Linked DNA regions of Homo sapiens: region 2 is linked to region 1. The links come from fine-mapping of genetic effects on gene expression. A gene starts in region 1. The other region holds a variant in brackets. All regions are shown on one strand. Distances are from middle to middle. Region 1 holds the start of DIP2B (disco interacting protein 2 homolog B). Region 2 overlaps DIP2B (disco interacting protein 2 homolog B).

What was found. PIP is the estimated chance that this variant, and not a neighbour inherited with it, causes the effect.
Region 2: its variant is fine-mapped to the expression of DIP2B in testis (GTEx, PIP above 0.99).

Annotation. Positions count from the first base shown.
Region 1 is chr12:50,503,276-50,506,187 of GRCh38, reverse strand. DIP2B (disco interacting protein 2 homolog B) reads right to left here and starts at 1,203. Exons shown (of 38, transcript NM_173602.3): 1 at 948-1,203. The coding sequence starts at 1,047. RefSeq lists a silencer at 791-900.
Region 2 is chr12:50,733,061-50,735,972 of GRCh38, reverse strand. It overlaps DIP2B (disco interacting protein 2 homolog B), which reads right to left. Exons shown (of 38, transcript NM_173602.3): 33 at 1,777-1,838; 34 at 843-900. Among named protein-coding and RNA genes, the nearest start is that of ATF1, 30 kb to the left of the region's middle. The variant C/T (reference allele first, on the strand shown) is at 1,342.

The DNA of each region.
Region 1 (2,912 bases):
AGCCAGTGATAAAAACAGGAACTTTACACAGAACTGATCACAACTGCCCCAGAAGCCTGATCACATGCCCACAACGGAGCACTGTGTTTCTCTCATTGTTGTACAAGGAGTTCTCTAATAACAGTGGCTTGATTTATCCCATTTTTTTTTTTTAATTCTGAAAATAAATCGAACCCTCCCTGTCCCAATCCATTGTCAAAAGAAAGAATGCCAGCCAGGATTTGCAAGTAAACGGTAGCCTCCTCTCCTTCCTTCATCAAAGACTCCAAAAGGTGACCAGATGCGGAAAATTCGGCCCGAATAACAGGCACCAGGAAAAAAAAAAACTTCTTATGACAAAGGTGGTCTAAAAGCAGCACCGTGTGTCTCTCTGGGTTAATGCCATTGCTTCTTATCTTCCTAGGACCCTAAATGGCTCACCCGCTTGTGTCTCACTCCTGTCACTGGGGAGGCATCGCGCATTGTTAAAGGAAAGAGAAGAAATGATGCTGCGGATTTCCCATGTGTCTCTTTTTGAAAGGGGGAAGGGGGGGCTGGAACAAGGCGTGGAGCCCTCCACGAAAAGGGGAGAGGAAAGGAGAAAGCTGTCAGCCACCCTCCTCGCAGCCCTACCCCTCACCCCACCTGGGCCAGACGCCTGGGCAGAAGCGGGAGGGCGCAGCTTTGTCTCGGGTTTTGGGGGGCAGGAAGCGCAGAAGCAGTGTGGGCCCGGGAGGACCTTTCCACAAGCCCTTACTTAGTCCCCTCCATGGGAAAACAATGAAAGCCACAGGAAACCACTTAATGGGGTGGGAGAGGAGGGAAAACGGTCGTGGAGCGCCAGGCCAGGTTCTCTACACCCTCGTCCCCCTCGCCGCACGGCCGCCAGAGCGCGCGGCGGGGACCTGTCTCCCAAGTCGCCGCGATCCGCAGGGCCCCGGGCGCCCTCTCCCCGGCCCGGCTCCTACCCTCCGAGAGCTCCAGCTCCAGCTCCGCCAGCTGCGCCCGCACTTCAGGCGGCAGCGCCGCCACCGCGGCCGGCGACGGCTCCAGGCCTCGTTCCGCCATCCCAGCTCCGCCAGCCACACTCCGGAAGACAAGAGAGGGGGCCGAAGGAGGGACGGACAGACACGGGCCCACACCCGGCTACAGGATCCGGCTCCGGCCGCCGAGCACCACCAGCACCGCCGCCGCCGCCGCCGCCGCCATGAGCAAAGGTCACGTGAGCGCGACGGCCCCCGCCCCCCGGCCAGGAGGACGCACCGCCTCTCCAGCCCAGTCAGGCTGAAGACGCATATGCTTACGGCGCCCTCTACTGGGAAGCTACCAGAACGACGGGCCCAAGCCCACCACTCGAATTTCCCTGCGCGAAATGGGCTCATGGTATGGACTGTCGGCTTTACCACAGTAGTGTGGACACATAGCATTTACCTTTCACTCTCGAGCAAGTTTTTAGGGGTCCCAGGCCTTACTTTTTCCAATACTAGACTTAGCAATGTATGTCTATCGTGTCCTTTACTCCATTTTCCCTGATTAATACCTGCCCATTTATAAAAACCTAATCACAGGCCACCTCCTTCGCTGTGGCTCCTGGTCCTATCTGCCAGGAGCTCTGTTTCCGTTTCAGTTTTAGCTTTTAAAAAGACAGGCGCGGTGGCTCTCGCCTGTAATCCTAGCACTTTGGGAGGCTGAGGCTGGTGGATCACCTGAGGTTAAGAGTACCAGGCTAGCCGACCGGGCGCGGTGGCTCACGCCTGTAATCCCAGCACTTTGGGAGGCCGAGACGGGTGGATCACGAAGTCAGGAGATCGAGACCATCCTGGCTGACACGGTGAAACCCCGTCTCTACTAAAAGTACAAAAAATTAGCCGGGCGTGGTGGCGGGCGCCTGTAGTCCCAGCTACTCGGGAGGCTGAGGCAGGAGAATGGCGTGAACCCGGGAGGCGGAGCTTGCAGTGAGCCAAGATCACGCCACTGCACTCCAGCCTGAGCGTGAGCGCGAGACTCCGACTCAAAAAAAAAAAAAAAAGAGTACTAGGCCAGCCTGGCCAACATGGTGAAACCCCGTCTCCAATAAAAATACAAAAATTAGCCGGGCGTGGTGGCGGATGCCTGTACTCCTAGCTACTCAAGAGGCTGAGGCAGGAGAATCACTTGAACCCAGGAGGCAGAGGTTACAGTAAGCTGAGATCGCGTCATTGCACTCCAGCCCGGGCAAGAGAGCAAACACTCCGTCTAAAGAAAAGAAAAAGACAATAGAGAGCAGGTCCACTTCTTTCTTTCTATACTTCTAACTACTTACAAGGAGGGAACTTACTTTAACTCATCCTCCTCACTCTGTGGCCTAATAGGTGTTCCAAAAACATTAATTTTAATTTAATATGAAGAGGGTCCAAGGCTAGGTGCAGTGGCTCACACCTATGATCCCAGCACTTTGGGAGGCCAAGGTGGGCGGATCACCTGAGGTCAAGAGTTCGAGACCAGCCTGGCCAACATGGCGAAACCCCGTCTCTACTAAAAACACAAAAATTAGCCGGGAGTAGTGGCACATGCCTGTAATCCCAGCTACCTGGGGGAGCTGAGGTAGGAACGTCGCTTGAACCCGGGAGGCCAAGGTTACAGTGAGCTGAGAACATGGCGGCTGCGCTCCAGCCTGGGCAACGCAGTGAAACTGTTTCAAAAAAAAAAAAAAAAGTCAAGGCCGGGCGTGGTCGCTCACATCTGTAATCCCAGCACTTTGGGAGGCCGAGGCAGGCAGATCACCTGAGGTCAGGAGTTGGAGATCAGCCTGACCAGTATGGTGAAACCCCGCGTCTACTAAAAATACAAAAATTAGCTGGGCATGGTGGCATGTGCCTGTAATCCCAGCTACTCGGGAGGCTGAGACAGGAGAATCGCTTGAACCCGGGAAGTGGAGGTTGCGGTAAGCCCAG
Region 2 (2,912 bases), 230 kb before region 1:
ACTAAATCTCTCTTTTGACGTTTTATAGCCTCATTCTAATCTAAGAAATCTTACTCCCACAGATGTTAACTCTCAAATATCTTTAATCTCATCCCCATTTTTATTTTCCTTTCAACTTTAAATGCATGTGTGTCTTCCCTGACCTTAAACCACACTCCCATCTCGGCCTCTCCTAGCTTTCTCCTTGTGACGTTTGTAAGATAGAACCGGGCCGGGCATAGTGGCTCATGCCTGTAATCCCAGCACTTTGGGAGGCCGAGGCAGGTGATCACCTGATGTCAGGAGTTCAAGACCAGCCTGGCCAACATGGTGAAACCCCATCTTTACTAAAAACACAAAAATTAGCTGGGCGTGGGGGCAGGTGCCTGTAACCCCGGCTACTCGGAGGCTGAGGCAAGTTCTCCTTGAATCTGGGAGGCAGAGGTTGCAGTGAGCCGAGATCGCGCCACTGCACTCTAGCCTGGGTGGCAGAGTGAGACTCCATCTCAAAAAAAACAAAAAACAAAAAACAAAAAAACAAAAAAAACCATGAAAAAAAAACATAGAACCAGCTCTTCTATCCACCTTTCATACAATGAGCACTGCATTTTGCTGGTCTGTCAATAAGAATAACATGTCAGTTGGATTTTTAAAAATCGATGGAAATTAAGAGAGTTCAAATTTACTATTCTTCTTATCTATGTACCCATATGAATTTGAAAGTATTAGCCAAGCTGAAATTATCTCCAGATTTCAATTAAGGCTTGCCCTGGACACTAATATATTATATGGCTTCTGGTTTCTTTAAACTGAACCACTTCTCCACACAGCCCACCTTCCCCATGGTCAACAGAACAAATTACCTTTCCAGACTCTGAGAGAAGCAAACTCTGAGGGGCGCCACGTTCCACGAGACGAACCCTGCAGAAGAACGGTATTTACTATATATAGGGCTTTTAAGAGGAGAAGTCGCCATGTTCCTGCAGCTCGGTGCTGCCTTCCCACAACCTCTAACTTGTCTCTCTTCCTCATACTACAGAGGGGTTTCTCAAACTCAGCACTACTAACATTTTGGCCAGATAATTTTTTGTTGAAAGGGGCTATCCTGTGCATTGCGGTGTTTACCAACACCTCTGGCCTCTGCCCACTAGATGTCAGTAGCAAGCCCCCTTTTATGACAACCCAAAATGTTTCCAGACATTGTCAAATCTCCTCTAGGGTGGCAAAATCTTCCCAGGTTTCAAACTGCTGCATGAGAGAGATGTTCCACCTATGCAGGCTAGGTCAGTGCAGTGGGGCACTCCAGATAACACATCCAGGGTAGTGGGGCTTGGGAAGAGAAGTCTTAGAGCCCTGGGCCAG[C/T]GCTCACTGCCGGACACAGCTAAAATTCCCTTCTGGGCTAAGGAGGCAGGCTTTTACCCATGGGGCTCAGATAAAGTGTTGTTTCAAAAACCCTACTCTGACTCATTTATCTTATCTGTCCTATTATTTTTAAACTCTTAGAGGAAAGAGACTATCCATTTTAGTTTAATTTATATCAAATGTCACAAAATACTTTTATATGGGCAATAACTATTATACTTTAATATTAAAGAACAGTGTAGCAACTGAGAGAATTAAAGCTTTCTTATAAATGTAAATCTTATGTATTAATGATAAAAACAAATTCCTTCCCTCTTCCCATTCCCCTCCTGGAATATATGAACAAAAGGAATGAGGGAAAATGCTGGCTTTGAGGTTCCGAATTTGTTATGCTTAGGAACTAGTAGGAAAGGAGCATTAATAAATCTGTTGTACCTGTCATGTCTTAGTGATTTCAGATCCACATACACAGTAGTCGGATCAGGCCCTGAGGTTCCCTAAAGAAAGACAAATCAATGCGTTGTTTAGAATTTCGATAAACTGTATTTCACATTTTCAAACCAAGAAATAATTTAGCCATATACATGAAAAATCCACACTCTTTTCACCTCTCCTCCCCTTGAGAGTAGGCCCCCTGCTCTCACTCTTATCACGGGGACTGTGGCAGCACTGAAACATTTCCATGCTGAGGAGGGCTTTCATCCCTGGATTCAAAGCAGAGGTGACACAGGTCGGCAACCCAGGGACTTGCAAAACCAGTATTGGCCACAGTGACAGCAAGAGGGCTATGATGGGGCTCAAGTTTAAACCATCAAGACCCTTCTGAAAGAAGAAGGTCACAGAAGACCTGAAATAATCCACCCATGTGTGCTATCTTCTTTCACTCACTTTGTCCATGCCTATATTTGCCTTATTATTTTTTTAAGAGACAGGGTCTCAATCTGTTGCCCAGGTTGCTGGAGTGCAGCGGTACAATCACAGCTCACTGCAGCCTCAACCTCCTGGGCTCAAGCAATCCCCTTGCCTCAGACTTCCAGGTAGCTGGGACTAGAGGCATGTACCACTAAGCCCATCTATATTTTTTGCAGGTGAGTGGTGGGGGTAGGGGAGAGATGAGGTCTCAACTATGTTGCCCAGGCTGGTCTCAAACTTCAGGGCTCAAGCAATCCTCCTGCCTTGGCCTCACAAAGTGTTGGGATTATAGCCATGAACCACCACACCTGGCGCTATATTTGCCTTATTACACATTAATACATAAAATTAGTCTCAGTTCTAGTCCCTTTTCTGTTATTTACCCATCAAGAATAACATGACAAAGTTGCCATCTGGGTAGAGAAGAGAATACAAGGTTATTGTTTGGAAAAAAAAAAAAAAAAAGAAAGAAAAAAAATGGTATAGAATATAGAGACAGAAAAACAGAAGGTCAGACCGGGCGCGGTGGCTCATGTCTGTAATCCCAGCACTTTGGGAGGCTGAGGCGGCTGGATCACTTGAGGTCAGGAGTTTGAGACCAGCCTGGTCAACAGGGCGAAACCCTGTCTCTACTAAAAATACAAAAAATAGCCGGGCGT